3 separate regions of the Homo sapiens genome follow, and regions 1 and 3 are each linked to region 2. The links come from fine-mapping of genetic effects on gene expression. A gene starts in region 2. Each other region holds a variant in brackets. All regions are shown on one strand. Distances are from middle to middle.

Evidence for each region. PIP is the estimated chance that this variant, and not a neighbour inherited with it, causes the effect.
Region 1: its variant is fine-mapped to the expression of CFAP97D2 in whole blood (INTERVAL, PIP 0.94).
Region 3: its variant is fine-mapped to the expression of CFAP97D2 in blood mononuclear cells (TOPMed, PIP above 0.99). The same link has a PIP of 0.9 or more in whole blood.

The regions. Positions count from the first base shown.
Region 1 is chr13:114,238,736-114,243,735 of GRCh38, reverse strand. It overlaps CDC16 (cell division cycle 16), which reads right to left. Exons shown (of 18, transcript NM_001078645.3): 4 at 4,708-4,746; 5 at 4,246-4,386; 6 at 1,456-1,615; 7 at 388-479. Among named protein-coding and RNA genes, the nearest start is that of MIR548AR, 3.3 kb to the left of the region's middle. The variant G/A (reference allele first, on the strand shown) is at 2,413.
Region 2 is chr13:114,174,683-114,182,265 of GRCh38, reverse strand. It overlaps CFAP97D2 (CFAP97 domain containing 2), which reads right to left and starts at 3,009. Exons shown (of 4, transcript NM_001395229.1): 1 at 2,846-3,009. The coding sequence starts at 2,935.
Region 3 is chr13:114,154,523-114,162,651 of GRCh38, reverse strand. No RefSeq gene overlaps it. Among named protein-coding and RNA genes, the nearest start is that of CFAP97D2, 21 kb to the left of the region's middle. RefSeq lists an enhancer at 1-900. The variant C/G (reference allele first, on the strand shown) is at 4,350.

The DNA.
Region 1 (5,000 bases), 63 kb before region 2:
AAAACTTATAACTTTAGGTTTTATAAGTACTCCTCTCAGTAAGTTTAATTCCCTTCTCAATTTTAGAACAGAATTCCACAGCGGGACGTATTTCTCAAAGTAAACATTCAGGAAGCATAACAAAAAAATCTTCATTTCCATGCAACACCATTCCATTTACATTTACTTGGTAATTCAATCTTTTAGTATAAGGAGTCTTTCAGAGGAAAAAGGTATTTTTGAAAGCTTTTTTTTTTTGGAATCTTATGTATCTTAAACGCTCTATTCTTAAAAATGTGCTAAATTTAAAAAGTTTTAATTTTGAAAACTTAATATAAGACTAGATGCCAAATTTTATGGAATAAGATATTTACATAAAGCAAGTGCTAACTCTTTGGTTTTACTTACTTTTTTCAATTTGTTCTCAAATAGAAAACGCAGCAATTCCTGTTCTTCATTACACAGCTTGCTAAGGGGTAGTGATTCAAGAAGTTCTTTTTCTTAAAAATGGTGAGAAAAAAAAGAATATCCTCATAATATTTATAGAGGGGAAAAAGCCAACAACTAAAAATATGATTCTACAGTTCTTGGTCTAAGTAAATCAAACTCAAAAGAGAACATAAGATCAAAATGTGCAACAGAAGCTGACACAGTGGCTCCAGGCCTGAAGACGGGAATCATCTGGTGGGTGGAGGCTACTCTTTCAGGGCTGAGGCAGGTCCCCAGGTGGCTCTTGTCACCTAAGAACCACCAGCCTCCGCACTCCTGACTGCGTGGATCTTGCTCTGCTGGGAACAGGGGAGCCTGTGTACTGCAGGTGCTAAGCAGGACCTCTGGCCACTAACCACTAGATACCAGCAGCAACCTCTCAACCTCCCTCCCTGCCCCTAAGCTGTGACAAACAACATCTCCAGACATTGCCAACTGTTCCCGGGGCAGGGGGCGGCAAAATCACTCTGGTTGGTTGAGAACCACTGCACTAGGCTAAAATATGTTAGAATCCCATTAATCCAACCACTCTATTTTCTGTTTCCCTTGTTGACGCACCTCACACCACTGCCAACATACTTGGACTGATTCTCAGTGCCTGTGGTACATTAGGATCACCTGGGAGCTTTAAAGCATCTGCTCTGGAGTTGGGAACTGGACATGGATGTTTCTCTGTCTTCCCAAGGATGTAAAGAGCAACACGGTTGAGAATCACTGCATGAGATACTGAAATCCTGGTTTATACTATCTCAATCACTTCTCAAAAAGATGGCCTCTTCCTATCACAATCCCTAGATTCGGACAGCACAAGGCACCGTACAATACTGCATTCTGCAACGTGCTTTACATTTGAAGACATTAAGAAAGTGAGTAGGTCTATTTAAACCTGTATGTGGCCTGTTGTTGACTTAGAAGATTTCAGAGGCAAAAAATCCAAACAATATTAATTTTGCTAAACATAAAACAAAAAAGCCTGAGTTTCCAAACCTTCTTGTGCTGTCAGCATGTGATGTGATGTTAAAAGATCGAACGCTTCAAAACAGTAGACATCAAGCTTCAAAGCTTCTTTGTAGCTGTAGGTAGCCAGGGTTCGGTTATCTAGAGCATCATAGATTTTCCCGCGTAGAAGACAGATAGAACTCTTTATCTGTTGGAAAAATGATGAGTCACATATTAAGTCAGTACTTTTAAACTTAACTTTTTTTTTTTCTCCTTAGAGGCAGAGTCTCACTCTGTCTCCCAGGCTGGAGTTCAGTGGTGCGATCATAGCTCACTGCAGCCTTGAACTCCTATGATCTCAAATGACCCTCCTGCCTCAGCCTCCTGAGTAGCTAGGATTACAGGTGCACAATACCACAAACAGTTAATTTTTTAAATTTTTTGTACAGACAATCTTGCTATGTTGCCTAGGCTGCTCTCAAACTCCTGGCCTCAAGTGATCCTCCCACTTTGGCCTCCCGAAGTGCTGAGATTACAGGCATGAGCAACCATGCCTGGCCCTTAAACTTAACTTTTGATAGAGAATTGTGTATTTGAATGCTGAGAAGTTTTTATTGCATTTAAAAGGATTTAGTCAATCACAACTGTCAAGGCATAAATAAAAACACACAAAAAATGCACAGCAAAGCTTCTTCAATTCACCTTCCCTGGGCTTCAACTGCTCTGTTCCAACACATCTTTATAACAAAAGTACATGTCACGGCTACTAGGTTCATTACCTGTTTTGTCCAAAACAGTGCAATGATTTAGAGATGGCAGAGTGTGTGTGCATGTGTATAAAACTCCAAGATTGACAGTGTGATAGGCAGACACCCCTCAAAAGGATCTTAATGAGCAGAAACTGGCAGCAATGCAGCAGAGTGGTCACAGCAGTCAGCACAATGGCCTGCTGAGGCAGCACAGACCTGAGTTCAAACCCCAGCTCTGCCAATTACTTGTAACCTC[G/A]GACAAGTGATTGAACCTCTCTTGGCCTCCATTTCCTATCCTCATCTGTAAAAAGATAAAAACACTATCTAACTTATAGAACTCTTTACTATCTAACTTATAGAAGTCTGTGAGGGCTAGAGATGCTACCATCTCTGTGGTGCTAGCACATAGTAAGGCGTTCAACAGCCATCTCACGACTACCATAAACACGAAGATGTGGAAATCTGATGCACATTCTAGACTCTGGACCTCGAACACATAACTGAATTTAAAGATGATCCAGCAACAGGCAGCTAGTATCATTAAGGATATGAAGAAGATTCATAAAGTAAAATTTTAGAAAAAATAATGAATTATGAGAGTCTTCGAACTAAGCAATATCCTAGGAGTTGTTTTTTAAAAATGTAATTTCACAAAATAAATAATAATGCGTTGCAAATAAATCACACATTTCATAGCAAATAAGTTAATGGATAAGAGGTCCCAAAATAATGACTGTACCACACACTTTCATAAATGCATTTCTTAACAGAAGAATCTGCTTCCCAACACATACATTAATGAGTGGCCAGAAAAAAAAACAAAAACAAAAACCTAGAATGTGTAATATTCTTTTATGCTTAAAAATAACTATCTAAGGTGAAAAGTCAAGTAATAAACTTCTACCAAAAATATAAATAAATGGGCCAGGTGCAGTGGCTCATGACTGTAATCCCAACACTTTGGGAAACTAAGGCAGGAGGATCACTTGAGCCCAGGAGTTTGAGACCATCCTGGGCAACACAGTGAGACCCTGTCTCTACAAAACATTTTTTAAAAAATTTAGCCAACTGTGCCGGGCACAGTGGCTCACACCTGTAATCCCAGCACTTTGGGAGGCCGAGGTGGGCAAACCACGAGGTCAGGAGATCGAGACCATCCTGGCTAACATGGTGAAACCCCGTCTCTACTAAAATAGCAAAAAATTAGCCGGGCATGGTGGCGGGCGCCTGTAGTCCCAGCTACTCGGGAGGCTGAGGTGGGAGAATCACTTGAGCTTGGGAGGTTGAGGCTGCAGTGAGCTGTGATTGTGCCACTGCACTCCAGCCTGGACAACAAAGCAAAGACCCTGTCTTAATTTAAAAAAAAAAGATGTGGGAAGAAAGAGAAATTGGTAGGTCAGGTAAGGCTTACAGGGATTCTTTCTGAATAATAAAAATATTCTAAAATTGACCATGGTGAGGTTTGCAAAGCTCTGTGAATACACTAAAAGGAATCAAACCATACAGTTTAAATGGGGGAACTGCATGGCATATAAATTATACCTCAATAAGTTTTTATTTTTTTTTTTAAATCCAGATTAGTGATCTGTAAATGTCACTTAATAAGTTACTATATGATGTCTGCCAGCAAGGAATGTGCAATTTCATGGAGATATGAAGTATACAAACTGAAATATACACAATTACATAGCAATGTACTTTGAAGCAAACAGAACACAAAACCATTTCCTGGAAAGAAACAATGTACGCTAATCAAAGTTTCTTGGTGTAGGTCCAAAACACTGCTGAAACACAGAAAGGAGAAGAAAAATTATTCCACTTTTAGGGAGTAGCTTAAGGCATCAAATATGAGAAGGAAGTTTCAAGCCAGCCTATTTTGGATGCAGGCATCTGCGGATACAATTACAGCTTGCAACTAAGGGCTCAGAAATGTCTCAGAATCTTTTTTGGTTTTGGTGGGCAAATTAAATAAATTGGCAACCACAATTGTTTTAATATAGTAATAAGTAAAAGAAGATAATGTGTTTCTGCCACGTAATGAGGGCAATTCTCGCCGCCGTTACTGAGCTGTGCTCACAGTACTACTTACTGAAGACTGTGACATTTCCCAGTCGCTGGAAGGATCTTTGAAGCCACTTTCGTCCTTCAAGTATTTTTCAAATAATCTTTTATTGATGGGCTCTTCCATGTCAAGAACATCAAGGGCCTGCTGGTGCTCTTTTGCAGCATACTACGTGGAAAACAGAAGTGCCGCTCATCACTCACGACTTCTAACACGAAACACATGATCCGAATTTTTAAAGGATAACATATACTATGCCCATTATTTAAATGTGAAATGTCTAAAGTAGAATTTTCTTCATGCATGTCAGCATGTGGTAAACGAAGAATCAGTATTTTATAGCAAACATGACTAAGGAAAGGAACACTTCCTCATGAAATACTTTACTAACCTGCTAAGCTCCATCACTAAAATTCTCACACATATTTAAGAGATGCATAACACTCATTTTATTCAACCAAATAAAAATGAAATTATGAGCATACTTACATGGCACCTAGCTGCAAGGTAACGACATGCTTCATACAACTAGGAAAGAAATTAATTTGTTTAAGTAGTGGTCAAAATAATATGTATCTTCACTTTCAAAGAAAGCCATAAGCATAAAATAGAACTAATTTCATAATTTCTCCTTTTACTCTTGCAGTTAAAAAAAAAATCCAGTCCTGTTAAACCATATTTATTATGAACCTACTGTTTACTAGGCACCAAGGATTCAAAAGCAGTAAGGCCCTGCCCCAGGAGGTTACAGTAGGGGAGATGTGAACTAAGCACAACAGGTA
Region 2 (7,583 bases):
TTGGGCGGAGAGAAACATAAATCTGGCCTACGTGCACATCCAGGCATAGTACCTTCCCTTGAACTTAATTACGACATAGACTCTTTTGCTCACGTTTTTTGCTGACCTTCTCCTTATTATCACCCTGCTCTCCTACTACTTTCCTTTTTGCTGAAATAATGAAAATAATAATCAATAAAAACTGAGGGAACTCAGAGACCGGTGCTGGTGCAGGTCCTTGGTATGCTGAGCGCCGGTCCCCTGGGCCCACTGTTATTTCTCTATACTTTGTCTCTGTGTCTTATTTCTTTTCTCAGTCTCTCGTCCCACCCGACTAGAAATACCCACAGGTGTGGAGGGGCAGGCCACCCCTTCAGGCATGGCCAGCCTGGCTGAGGGGTCAGGTGCGTTGGGGAGCGCTGGGGGCAGGGGCCACTCAGGCTCTGAGGGGGAAGGCTGGGCTGAGGATGAGGCCCCTATTCTAGGAGGGCAGTCATCAGGGGACTGGGATGCACTGTTCTCCCACAGGTCTTTTTTCTCCTCTTATTTTATCTCCTCTTATTCTACCAAGGTCCTTTACAGTTTCAGAGATTCTCAGCCAAGCAATAAAAAACTAAGTTATTCAAAGAGCTGATTCTCTCCACTCTTAATTTGGGAGAAACATTGTTTGCATTCAAGTTTTAGTGCCAGTTGGAGAACTGTGGAGTGTTAGAGGGGTCCTGCTCATGTAGCTGCTTCCAGCCCCGGCTGCTCCTCACCCTTCTGCTGTAGCTTGCCCTTCTCCTCATTCAGTGGGGCCTGTAGCGTCAGGGCCCATCTTGCTCTTCTCCCATTTCTTTGTCCTAAATGAGCCCTACCCCCGTGGGACGGCTCTGCCAGCTGCCTTAACCTCCTTTGCCAGGTTTCATGTCCTACCCTCACGCCCCTCAGCATACCCCTGCCAGGACACCCAGGCATCATCACCACCTGTGTCTGCCCCTGCTGGGAAGCTGTGCTTTCAGTTGCCCTGTTCTTCACCACAACCTCCTTTTCATCACTTGGTCAGCTGTGCCCAACAGCAGTTCCTTACGATATGTGACTTCCAGTTTCTCTCTTTCTGGACTGGTTCTCTGTCTTCACTTCATCCCCTCCAGGTCAGACACCCAGTCCCTCTTTTCAACACTTTCGTGCCAGAATCATAGGTTCCCGGCCCATGCCCCTTGCTGCTACTCGGGGGCCACACTGGGGTGTTCCAATGACTCCATCCTTGGACCCAGTACCTGTAGGTTTCCGACGTCACAGAGCTGCTAAACTAGCTTATGCCCCCTGGGGCCTCATGGCTCCAGTCAACCTACCAAAGTTCACTATTCAATCATCTCTGCACCTCCCATGACGACAATTTCAACCTTCTTTACCTTACAGTTTCTCAGGTACAGAGCCTGGTTACTCACTTAGGCTGCAGGATTACTGACCAGCTACCTCATGCAGGAGGTATTCTAGTCCCCGGGATACAAAAGCAAACAAGAAAACACCCATGGGGTTTCTATCCTGTAGTATTACTGTAATGCTAACTGATTCATATGTGCTATTGCCTTACCCACTGCTTTCCATCTTTCCCTACTGACAACGGTTGACCAAGTGCTCACTCCACACTCTACGTGCAGAGAACATCGTGGTGGGCAGGACGTGGTCAGCACTGAGTGGGGAAAACAACACAAGTAATGAACATGCCCATCAATCACGTGGCAACAGGAGGTAGCAGGCCCAGGAACCAGAGAGCGGCAGAGGGGAGAGAGAAGACTCCAGGGAGATGATATTGGAACCGGAGTGCCAGGAAGTGAGGTTGAGCTGGGGAAGGAGCCGGGAAGAGTTCCCAGTGGGGACCTCAAAGGAGACAGCAGGTGCAGAGGCCTGACGTGGGGTGGGGGCTGGGTGCTATGGCGCCTTGCAATGAGTGTGACCTGCAGCCCAGGCCACACAATGTCACTTGCAACCCTAGGAGGAAGAGAAATGCTTGACCTGCAGTTCACTCCTTGGGGTAGTCACTTAAGATCATTACAGGGCAGTGTCTCCATTCCCAGAAACAGAAACCCAAACTTCTCCTTCTTAAGAGTATTTCCAGCCTGATCAACACACATGTGGAGACATGATACATGGAACATCGTTCTCTGACGCCTCCACTGAGGTGTGGGCAGAAGACTGTGGGAGGCCACCTCAGATCTGCATGGCGATGCCCTCAAACAATTGTCCACATTTGCATCCAATAAATGGAAATAATAACATATCTTCTAATGGGGACAAGGGTTGGCTTTTAGTCCCCCTTGGAGTCCACTGTTTTGATAGAGAAAAGGATGCCGGGCCGGGCACGGTGGCTCATGCCTGTAATCCCAGCACTTTGGGAGGCTGAGGCAGGTGGATCACCTGAAATCAGGAGTTCAAGACTAGCCTGACCAACATGGCAACACCCCTATGGCAACATCCCTCTCAAAAACAAACAAAAACAAAAACAAAAACAAAAAACAAAAAGAAAGAAAAAGAAAAGGATGCTTCTGGTGTTTTTGTCTTAAGATGCTTTCAAGTCACTTAGGAAAAATTAAGTACTTCTTAAATATATGCTGTGATTAGAAATAGGATGGCCCTAAAACATGGCACATGAAAGCTGTCATCTCAAAAAAAAAAAAGAAAGAAAGAAAGCCGTCAACTATTTAATGAGATTTTTATTGTATGGCAACATAGATGATGAATCTTGTTAGGAAATGTCATTTCAACCATGCTGTCTCCAAAAAGAAAATCACCTCCAGGACTCCAGGGAAAGCAGAGGCATTTCGTGGGCGCTGCTTGGTGCCCGCCCGCTGAGCTGTCAGGGCTGGATTGGGGACTTTCCTACCTTTCTCCTGTGGTCCTGATAGGCTTTCTCCCTTGCATGCCACAGGTACTCACTGGCACAGGGAAAGGTCAGCCGGGGGGCTCCGTGCATCTCAGCAACAAAATCGTCTTGCTCATTCCAGACAGAGGAGCAGCTGGGGCCTGGTGCAGACCTGGAGACGCTGTGTTTGCAGGGTCATGTGACAGTTGTCATGGCGTCCAAGGAGGGGGAAGAACGGGAGCCAGAAGACAGTCTGGGATTCTCAAACAACACGCGAAGAATAATGGTGAAGAGTGGGATCTTCTTCTCCACTGGGGTGTTTTTTTTTTTCAGGAGATCTTGGATAGTTTAGTGTTGCCATTTTGATGCCACTCCTCAGCTACAGAGGAAGGAGATAATCACACATAAGATCCGAGAAATTCTCCAACTAACCTTCCTCCTGCCCACCCTTCCTTTGCTCCTTGCTGTCTTCCTCTCCCCTACCTCTTTCTTCTGCCCTTCCTCCCAACCTCTCCCGCTCTCCAGTTCTTTCCTTTCTTAATTAGTACCTTTCTTTCTGCTTTCCTTATCTCCTTTCTCTTCTATCTTGAATAATTTATATAATTCAGACAATTCCAAAATATTTGTTTGAAGGTTAGGCAGCAGATCCTCCCTAATTTTTCTGATTGACTTGAAGACGAGTTATGCAAAGGCTTAGCTGTTTTAAGCCACCCTCTCTCCATTGCTCTAATCAGGTTGGGATGGGTTTTTCCTGAGACGAATGGAGTGAACATGGCGCTAGGACAGCTGTCGGTCGTTTCATCTTCGTTGAAGCCACGTGCGCAATGTTGGCGACGACACATCAGAGGATTTGGTTAATGAGAAAATAGCATCATCATTTTCATGTCAGAGCTGTGGTCTTCATTACACTACAGCTCTCATCACATGAGACTCCAGTGCAGAATCCATGGATGGGAACTCATTGTTCAGCTTTGCATATGTGAGGAGCAGATACAGGGCATTTCATGAGAAATTTGCTCTGAATATTAGCAGGATGTAGTGGCTGCCAGTCTGAAAGAAAGAATCAGATCTGGAAGTAATAAGATGTGAGTGAAGCCAAAATATGACTTTATTTCCTCCCCTGCCACTCTTGAGGTGGCTGAGGTGCTCTGTACTCAGCTAGCTCTGATGATCTTCAACATTTGGCAGAAGCCTTTATAGGCTGTTAAAATTGTTGATTTAATGAAAATTTTAAAGTTGCCTGGGTTTTTGAAAAGAAAAATTTATTTTAATACATAATTGTTCACAAGTATTAATTTTTAGATAACTTGCATATACTGTAGAATTTAGATGTAAGAATTCCTACCTAGAAATACAACCAGCACTTTAAGACATGAGGCTTAGTTATGATTTCTTAGCCTATACAATCTAAATGTTACATTCAGAGGAATTCTATTAGAATAATCAATTTCCTTTACTCTGATATTGTCATTGGTCAAAAATGACTAGAAAAAGCCTAATATTCAGTAGGTGCTCAACAAATACCTAATATTCAGTAGGTGCTCGACAAATACCTGACAGTCATGCTGATGGGAAGTAGTGCTGTCCATGCTATTGGCTGGTTCCTCAGCTGGGACTCGGAGTCAGACCGTGGGGCTGTCTTCCCTTGTTCCTTCATCCTGTGTGCTGAGAAGCCTGACTGTGCTTGCTGCTGCCATCGGTTGGTGGATGGAGGAGTGAGGGCTGTGCTCTATGTCTGCTCACACTCACATGGATAAAGCGTGCATTGAGGGCAAAGTGGACAAAATATGTGACGTTTGAAGTTTTTGTTTTTACAGTGTGGGGATTCACAGTGGTTTGGATGCACACACTGTTTTTGATGCTCCTGGTCAAATGAAGTGAGCTCAGGTCAGGGAAGGAGTCCCAGCTGCCACCCACGGCTGCCACCCACGGCTGCCACCCACGGCTGTCCACCCACGGCTGTCACTCACAGCTGCCTCCCACAGGGAAGGAGTCCCAGCTGCCACCCACGGCTGCCACCCACACTGTCCACCCACGGCTGTCACCCACAGCTGTCCACCCACAGCTGCCACCCTCAGGGAAGGAGTCCCAGCTGCCACCCAAGGCTGTCACTCACAGCTGCCACCCTCAGGGAAGGAGTCCTAGCTGTCCACCCACAGCTGTCACCCATGCTGTCCACCCATGGCTGTCACCCACAGCTGTCATCCACATGGAAGGAGTCCCAGCTGTCCACCCACGGCTGCCACCCATGCTGTCCACCCACAGCTGTCACCCACAGGGAAGGAGTCCTAGCTGCCACCCACGGCTGCCACCCATGCTGTCCACCCACGGCTGTCACCCACAGCTGTCACCCACAGGGAAGGAGTCCCAGCTGCCACCCACGGCTGTCACTCACAGCTGCCACCCTCAGGGAAGGAGTCCTAGCTGTCCACTCACAGCTGCCACCCATGATGTCCACCCACGGCTGTCACCCACAGCTGTCCACCCACAGCTGTCACCCATGCTGTCCACCCACGGCTGTCACCCACAGCTGTCCACCCACAGCTGTCACCCATGCTGTCCACCCATGGCTGTCACCCACAGCTGTCATCCACATGGAAGGAGTCCCAGCTGTCCACCCACGGCTGCCACCCATGCTGTCCACCCACAGCTGTCACCCACAGGGAAGGAGTCCTAGCTGCCACCCACGGCTGCCACCCACGGCTGCCACCCACGGCTGTCACTCACAGCTGTCACCCACAGGGAAGGAGTCCTAGTTGCCACCCACGGCTGCCACCCATGCTGCCCACCCACAGCTGTCCACCCACGGCTGTCACCCACAGCTGTCCACCCACGGCTGTCACCCATGCTGTCCACCCACAGCTGTCACCCACAGGGAAGGAGTCCTAGCTGCCACCCACGGCTGCCACCCATGCTGTCCACCCACGGCTGTCACCCACAGCTGTCACCCACAGGGAAGGAGTCCCAGCTGTCCACCTACGGCTGCCACCCTCGGCTGGCCTATGGTTACCTGCAACCCACTGACCACTCGACTCACGTCTGCTCTTGGACTTGACTGACGGCAGGGCCCATGGTACAGAATCTGCAAACATCAGACATGTTGCTAAAGACCCAGGAAAATCAATCACCCCCAACAACATGCTCTGGATTTCAGGGCACCACAGGGCTCCAATCAAGTTTTGCTTCTTAAGATCAGACCAGACAAGGCAGTTAAGCAGCAGCTCCTTGGCATCTGTCCTGAGGACTAATGAAACACTGACAAGGGCTTGCACACATGAAGCAACACTGCATGGAAGTGAGCTGCAGTCTGGGGTCCAGTGTTGAGAAGCAGTGCGGACTTCCACCGTGCACCTCTGTTCCGGGATCCAAGCCATGGCACCACACTGCATTTTGTGATTTCTATATTAAGTGGAGAATTATTTTTTATACTGGGCTAGGTTTGGATGTTTGGTATTATATAGTTTCTACTTATATTCTACAGAAAGTAAATACCAACGCCTATTTTTGACTTTGATTATCCAGATTATATTTGGGTGTTCAGCTGCTGCCTTAATCAATATTTTGGCCCAATATTAAGTTTAACGTTTTGTTTCTTAGAAATGCCTTGAAATGTCACCAAGTGATATCCTGAAATGTGGAGGCCGTTACATAGAACAGCTTACTATGTTGCATGCAATATGTAAAGTATTTGCTATATGACACATATTAACTCAGTCTTTAATATTCATAATTCTTTTCCTGTGTCCTTAACTCTAAATCCAAGCTTTGATTTTTCTGTTCTGCCCTCCCACAAAAGGCCGTATCTTCAAAACCAAGCAGCAACTTCGTTCTCATTCTGCAGAAGAGTGGTTTACAAACAAATCTCCAACCACTTCAAATTCACTCAACCTTCAACCTTTGGAGGGCAAATGTGCTTGCAAACATTGATTTCCAGAAAAGGTAACTGTGTCTCCAGTACCTTCTGTGTAGTGCAAATCACTCAAGAGCTGAGCTAAAGAAGCTGGGAGTCACCACCACCAGGAACTGCTGCGTGACCTGCTTAAGTCGACCCTTCCACTGAACAAAGCCAGAATCCTGGAGGCCATCTTGCATATACTGAAGAGCCCACCCAGGAGTCAGGAATTTTGAGGCTGTGGTCAAAAAAATCTGTCAGACCCCCGAGCCAGCACTCAGAGGGCTTCTCCTGAAGGCACTCAGGATGCCAGCGGTGGGGTCTTTGTGGGGGATGGGGCAGGTGGGCAGTCTTCATAGGAGCTGAAGTCTTCACCCTCAGGAAAACGTGGATCAGAAATAACCCATCCTTCAACAACTGCCAGGTTACAGCAGAGCAGGGGACAAGACAAGGAAGAGCCCTGCGGCCCAGGTTCACACAGTTGTGAAATTAGCTTAATGTCACAGTGCCTAAAAAACCCTCAAGTCGCGAAATTATCTTAACGTGGCCCTGGACTGATGACATCTCAAGATGCTGCCAACTTTCCAGTGTCTCAGTGCACCAAACATCTTGCAAAGTGAATCAATCCTGCAGAGAAGACACGACTAGCACCACAGGAACCTTGGAGCAGATGGCTCAGACACAGATGATAAGACTCACTCTGCTTCAAGGCACAAAAGACAAAATCGGAAATAGCTGCAGAGTACAGGAAACCATAAAAGTTTTCAATACAGAAAGAATGTTTACAACATTTGCAAAATTTGACCGTATGCTGGGCCATGAAAAAGTGTCCACATGTTTCAAAGGGCTGAAATCATACAGATAATG
Region 3 (8,129 bases), 20 kb after region 2:
CAACAGTGAGCTAAGTTCGTGACGCTTGTTTCTCTCAGGACAAAGCAGAGATTTAGGTGTCGGAAAAGCACTGCAGGCACCTTATCCCTGGACCAGAGACTCCCTTGGTCTGCTTTGTTTTTAAAGTAGAAACGGTCATTGTCAAAATGGCCCTCAGGCACAATATTTACACAGCAGAGACCCAGTCGCAGCCGCCTCACACCGAGGTCAAGGGGCAGAGACAGCAGGAACCGTGAGCTCTGGTTCCTGAGCCAGTGTCTCCTCCCTCTACCGAAGCCCTCGTGTTTGCACTCTCTTGACGAAACACCGAGCTATTTAAGTGGGAATAATATAGTTCCTTCTGTAGACAGCACAGCTGATGCCGTGGTCAAGGACAAAAATGTTAAAAGGTTTGGCCTTTAGTCGAGGACGGGCAGTTGTTGCTTTCCTGGAGGTAGCTGGACGCAGGCGGGTTTTCCTCCCGTGAGGAGCACAGCAGCCTGGGCGGGTGAGGAGGAGCCAGGCTGGGCAGGGCGGCTGTGGGTTCTCGACTTCCTCCTCCTATTCCGGGTGCCAGGAGCTGTTTACTGCCCTGTGAGAGCTTCCTGACAGCAGCTTCACTGGCCCCCTTCCAATCGAGTTCCTGCCCTCTCATCTTTGTGGAGACCACGCTGACTATGATTTCCGAAAATTTACTTGTTCTCTGCCAAATCCAAGGATTCCCACTCCCTCCCACCCATACCCTCGCTTTGCTTCTTCCCGGCTCTGCACACTCCCCAACTTGCTTCTGCACCAGGGGCCCCTCTGGGGAAAAGCAGATGTCCCTTGAGCTAAAGAAGTTGCAGTTCACCCAGGCTGGGCTGTCCTGGAGGTTGTGGGCACGTGAGCGTGGGAGGGGTCGTGTGTTCCTCCACGCTCACCCAGAGCAGCCCCCTCTCGGCTTCGTGTAATATGCTGGTGTCATACATACTTAGGTCTGTTGGAAGAAAATGTCCCAGGACTCACATAAATGATAAAAACCGTCGTTCCAGGCAGCCCATGGCTGGCATCTTGAGTGCCAATAACGTGCTCCCTGAAGCTTTCCCTGGTGGACACGAAGCAGCACTTCGCTCGTGATGGCTGATTGAAAACATGCCGGTGAACTGGACGACGGTGAGCACGACCCCCGCCCCCCGCCGCTGTGGCCGCCGCGGGGAAGCCTGCGCGTGAGTGGGACACACTTTGCCCTTCGTATTCTGAGGACAGAGGTTTGGCGTGTTAGCGAGGCCGCCAGAGTTTCACTCACACCGCGAGGCGTTCTCTAGTTAGAGGCGAGAGGGCACGACCGGAAGCGGAAGCCGCGTGACTGGGGGGGCGGCGCCGTGCCCGCCTTGGGAAGCTCGCTTCCGGTGAGCAGAGGGATGGAAGAACGCGTGCGTTTAACGTGGCTTCTGCTGGCTCCGCATGAAACGGGTTTCCGAACAAACCATACTGGGTCCCTGCCACATGTGCGTTGACCTCATTGGAGGCGAACCTTTGCTCAGGAAACTGATTCACCCAGTGGGTGACAATCAGGAGGGGCACGGAGGGCCAACGTGAGCGTTCTCACAAGCTGGGGACGAATGACGAGGCAGTGGAACAATTGCGGGATGAGGGGGGGTCACGGTGAGTCCTGCTTTGAAAATGAGTCAGGAGTAGATACAACATTTGTAAAGATGACCTGCTACCAAAAGGCCTTTGGTAAAATTCAACATCCTTTCATGTTAAAAACTCTCAATAAGCTAGGTATTGATGGAACATACCTCAAAAGAATAAAAGCCATTTATGACAAACCCACAGCCAATAACATACTGAATGGGCAAAAGCTGGAATCGTTCCCTTGAAAACTGGCACAAGACAAGGATGCCCTCTCGCACCACTCCTATTCAACACAGTATTGGAAGTTCTGCCCAGGGCAATCAGGCAAGAGAAAGAAATAAAGGTTATTCAAATAGGAAGAGAGCAAGTCAGACTGTCTCTGCAGATGATATGATCCTATATCTAGAAAACCCCATCATCTCAGCCCCAAATCTCCTTAAGCTGATAAGCAACTTCATCAAAGTCTCAGGATACAAAATCAATGTGCAGAAACTGCAAGCATTCCTATACACCAATAATAGACAAGCAGAGAGCCAAATCATGAATGAATTTCCATTCACAATTGCTGCGAAGACAATAAAATACCTAGGAATACAGCTAACAAGGGAAGTGAATGACCTCTTCAAGGAGAACTACAAACCACTGTTCAAGGAAATCAGAGAGGACACAAACAAATGGAAACACACTGCATGGTCATGAACAGGAAGAATCAATGTTGTGAAAATGGCCATATTGCCTACAGTAATTTATAGATTCAATGCAATTCCCTTTAAACTACCATTGACGTTCTTCACAGAATTAGAAAAAACTACTTTAAAATTCATATGGGACCAAAAAAGAGCCGATATAGCCAAGACAATCCTAAGGAAAAAGAACGAAGCTGGATGCTTCAGTTACCTGACCTCAGACAAGGCTGCAGTAACCAAAACAGCATGGCACTGGCACAAAAACAGACACATAGACCAATGGAACAGAATAAAGAACTCAGAACTAAGACCACACATCTTCAGCCATCTGATCTTTGACAAACTTGACTAAAACATGCAATGGGGAAAGGATTTCCTGTCTAATAAATGGTGCCAGGAAAACTGGCTAGCCACATCCAGAAAATTGAAACTGGACCCCTTTCTTACACCTTATATTAAAATCAATTCAAGATGGATTAAAGACTTAAATGTAAAACTCCAAACTATAAAAACCCTAGAAGAAAATCTCAGCAATACCATTCAGGACACAGTCACGGGCAAATATTTCATGATGAAATCACCAAAAGCAATTGTAACAAAAGCAAAAATTGACAAATGGGACCTAATTAAACTAAAGAGCTTCTGCACAGCAAAAGAAACTGTCATCAGAGTGAACAGGCAACCTACAGAATGGGAGAAAATTTTTGCAAACTCTCCATCTGACAGAGGTCTAATATCCAGAATCTACAAGGAACTTAAACAAATTTATAAGAAAAAAACCCAACAACCTTGTTGTTAAAAAGTTGGCAAAGGACATGAACAGACACTTCTCAAAAGAAGACATACATGTGGCCAACAAGCATAGGAGAAACAGCTCAACATCGCTGATCATTAGAGAAATGCAAATCAAAACCACAATGAGAAACCATCTCACGCCAGCCAGAATGGAGATTATTAAAAACTCAAGAAACAACGGATGCTGGTGAGGCTGTAGAGAAATAGAAATGCTTTTACACTGTTGGTGGGAGTGTAAATTAGTTCAACCATTGTGGAAGACAGTGTGGTGATTCCTCAAAGATCTGGAACCAGAAATACCATTTGGCTCAGCAATCTCATTACTGGGTGTATACCCAAAGGATTATAAATCATTCTATTATAAAGATACACGTATGCGTATGTTCATTGTAGCATTATTCACAATAGCAAAGACATGGAATCAACCCAAATGCCCATCAATGATAGACTGGACAAAGAAAACGTGGCACATATACCCCATGGAATACTACGCAGCCATAAAAAGGAATGCGATCATGTCTTTGCAGGGACATGGATGGAGCTGGAAGCCGTTATCCTCTGCAAACTAACACAGGAACAGAAAACCAAACACTGCGTGTTCTCACTTATAAGTGAGAGCTGAACAATGAGAACACATGGACACAGGGAGGGGAACAACACACACCGGGGCCTGTCGTGGGGTTGGGGGGCGGGAGAGCATCAGGAAAAATAAGATAATGTATGCTGGACTTAATATCTAGGTGAAGGGTTGATCTGTGCAGCAAATCACCATGGCACACGTTTACCTATGCAACAAGGCTGCACGTCCTGCACATGTATCCCAGAACTTAAAATAAAATAAAATGAAATTAAAGAAAAAAAAAGATGATCTGCTACATAATGCCTTTCACAAGAATGCGACCAGGGATGAATTTACCCCCTGTGCTCAGCGTGACTGAAGTTCTTAGGAGAGCAATAGTCTAATGTTCACCTCCACATTTTACAGACGTTGAGAACACCACGCACGGGGTCTTTGGAAGTGCTGGAATGCCCCCAGATGTCTAAGCACTCTGTCCTGTCCTGAACTCCCGCTAAGTGGAGGGCAGTTGCTGCTGGGCACCCTGAATGCAGGGCCTCCCTCCTCTTCAGGCCCAGTTGGATTGAAACAAAGTCCAAGGAGAAACGTGTAGCCCCAAAGAGAACAGGAATAGAGGTGCTGGCAGATGAGAATGGCCAATGATTTCCAAAGGTGGAAGGGGATGCAAGGGTGTGGGCGGTGGGGCAGGGTGAAGG[C/G]GCCCAGCCAGAGATGCTCAGAGATCAATGGTGGAGGCCAGGGTCATCTTGCTGAGGGATCCCAGAGTGGCACTGAGCTGGGAGGTCAAAGGGAGATAGATGTGGGGCTGAAAACGGGGTGGGGGCTGGTAATTCCAGTTGCCTGTGAACAAGTGCCTGGCAGTAGTCACCTCTGCAACCCGTGCCTGCGTCTGTATCCCGCCAAGAAGCCAGCAGGTTCCCAGGCAGCGTCAGAAGATTCTTATTCACGGCCCTGGAGTCAGCATCCTGGGTGTGGCCACAGCTTGCAGCCTGGGTCTAGGGCCCCAGGGTAAAATCTTTTTTTTTTTTAATTATACTTTAAGTTTTAGGGTACATGTGCACAACGTGCAGGTTTGTTACATATGTATACATGTGCCATGTTGGTGTGCTGCACCCATTAACTCGTCATTTACATTAGGTATATCTCCTAATGCTATCCCTCCCCCCAACCCCACAACAGGCCCCGTGTGTGATGTTCCCCTTCCTGTGTCCATGTGTTCTCATTGTTCAATTCCCACCTATGAGTGAGAACATGCAGTGTTTGGTTTTTTGTCCTTGCGATAGTTTGCTGAGAATGATGGTTTCCAGCTTCATCCATGTCCCTACAAAGGACATGCACTCATCATTTTTTCATGGCTGCACAGTATTCCATGGTGTATATGTGCCTTATTCTAGTGTGGATTGCAGTGTTTCGGGGGAAGGGAGAGATGCTAGCCTGCTGCCTGCTCCTCACCCATCTGTCCTAAATAAAGCACAGCCACGCCCCGTCTGTGGATTCCCTCCCAGCTCACCTTTCCACCCCCAGCTACCTTTCCACCCCTAGCTCACCTTTCCACCTGGAGGACCCCACGGAAAACCCACAGTATCCCATCTAAATGAGCCACTGGTTCTTAGACACAGGTGAGCAGGCTTCTCCAGACTTTCCATAGAAACCAGCGACAGAGGGGGAGGATCCACAAAGGTGACAGCTGGCTGGGCGTGGTGGCTCATGCCTGTAATCCCAGCACTTTGGGAGGCCGAGGTGGGTGGATTGAGAGTTCGGGAGTTCACGACCAGCCTGGCCAACATGGAGAAACCCCGTCTCTACTAAAAATACAAAATTAGCCGGGCATGGTGGTGCATGCCTGTAATCCCAGCTACTCGGGAGGCTGAGGCAGGAGAATCGCTTGAACCCGGGAGGCGGAGGTTGCGGTGAGCTGAGACCGCACCATTGCACTCCAGCCTGGGCACTCCAGCCTGGGCAACAAGAGTGAAACTCCGTCTCAAAAAAAAAAAAAAAAAGGTGACAGCTGACCTCAGAGAAAACAGCTAAGTGGGAAAACAAAAAATGAAGTTAAAGATCTAATTACTGTCCTCAGAATATTCAAGAAAATACGCATATAGGTAACATAAGAACAGAATACTAGTTAAGAACAGGCAGAGAGCAGGAAAGATGTTTAAAATATGATTTCTGAACTGAAAATCCCACGAAAGAGATGGACTTCAGGGTCCAGTGAGGTTTCCAGAATATGCCTCAAAAAGACAGATGGAGAATTCTCAAGGAGAGATTAAAGTCCTGGACCATGCGCTGAGGAAATGCCAGGCGAATAGGCTTCAGAGAAGAGAAGGGAGGCAGGACGCTTCCTCCACAGAGGAAACTTTCCGGAGCAGAAGGACAGGGCAGAGGCTGGTGGGGAGGTGGGGGCAAGCAAGGAGACCCAGGACAGGGGACCGAAAGGACACTTCCTCTCCTCTTCTGGGGAGAAAAACAATCAAAAGGAGAAAGAGAAACAGAAACACATTCCAGTTACCTTGACACCAGGACTGGGAAGGGCGAGGGTGAAGGTCGGGGAGCCCAGAGGAGGTGCACACCCCACGCCCAGCACCCACCCCATCCACGCCCAGCACCCACCCTTCCCCACCCCTCCCCACGCCCCAGCACCCACCCTTCCCCACCCCTCCCCCCCCACGCCCAGCACCCACCCTTCCCCACCCCTCCACCCCCACGCCCAGCACCCACCCCATCCACGCCCAGCACCCACCCTTCCCCACCCCTCCCCCCCCACGCCCAGCACCCACCCTTCCCCACCCCTCCACCCCCACACCCAGCACCCACCCCTCTACCCTCACATCCGGCATCCACCTCACCCACCCCACCCACCCCTCCACCCCCAGGCCCGGCACCCACCCTCACATCTGGCATCCACCCCACCCACCCCTCCAAACCCAGGCCCAGCACCCACCCCACCCATCCCTCCACCCCCACGCCCAGCACCCACCCTTCCCCACCCCTCCACCCCCACGCCTGGCACCCACCCTTCCCCACCCCTCCACCCCCACACCCAGCACCCACCCCACCCATCCTCCACCCCATGCCCAGCACCCAACCCACCCTCCCTCCACCACCAGGCCCCGCACCCACCACACCCACCCTCCACCCCCAGGCTTGGCACCCACCCCCCCTCCCCCACGCCCAGCACCTCCCCTTCCCTCACCCCTCCCTCCCAACCCTCTGCACCCCACCCCTCCCCACCCCTCCACCTCCACGCCCAGCACCCACTCCTCCCCACTTCTCCACCCTCATGCCCGGCCCCCACCCCTCCCCACCCTCCACCCCCACACTCAGCACCCACCCCTCCCCACCCCTTCATCCTCATGCCTGGCCCCCACCCCTCCCCACTGTCCACCCGTATGCCCAGCACCCACCCTCCCCACCCCTCCACCCTCACACCGTGCATCCCACACCTTCCCCCTCCAGGTAACACCCTACACCCCTACACCCCACCACTGGCCCTAATCTTCCATCCCCATGCCCCACACCTCCACTTTCCCCTTAGCCCCTCACCCTCATGCCCTGCACCCCATACCCCACTGCTCCCACAGCCTTCCACCCCATGCCCCACACCTCTACCCTGCCCAAAGCCCCCACCCTCACCCTCACACCCCACCCCTCCTCATAGCCCCCACCCTTACATCAAACTCCCCCTACATTCCACCCTTCCCTAACCCCCCACCCCGTGCCCCACACCTCCACACCCCACTCCTCCCCTGAGTCCCCCACTTCCACACCCCACAGTCGCACACACTACCGGTCTCCCAGCCTTCCACCCTCACACCTTGCACCTGCGCACCCTCCCCCTCCCCCAGGCCCCACCATCATGCCCCCACACCTACACCCTCTAACTCGACCTTCTAACTCCCTGAGCTCCCACACTCTGCATCCCACACCCCACACCCCACCCACCCCGTTAGCCCCCACTGTCCCATGTCTCATGACCCACACCCCACACCCTCACAGCCCCCTCCACCCCCAACGCCCCACTACAGCCCCCCACTCACCATAACTCCACACCCCACCCCTGCATCCCCCATCCCCACCCCTGCATCCCCCATCCCCCACCACTTTGCCCCATGTTCCCAACCTCCCCAATCTCCCCCATGCCCCACACCTTAACCCCCTACCCTTATACTCTACCTGCACATCCAGCACCCAACCCCAACTGCAATCCCCTACACACCTTCCACGGCCACTCCGCACCCCCACACCTCACGGGCCTCCACACTCCTCAGAGCAACTGGAGCCTTGGGCCTCAGTGGTGGAAAGAGGAGGGTGAGCCTCAGCAGCTGCAGGAAGTAGCAGCCTCCTGGGACAGCTCATCTAAGGAGGACAGGCCCCCTTAACCAGAGAAGCCCCACAGGGTCTAGACACAGACAGAGTAAGGCTTTTTTTTTTTGAGACAGAGTCTTGCTCTGTCACCCAGGCTGGAATGCAATGGCGCG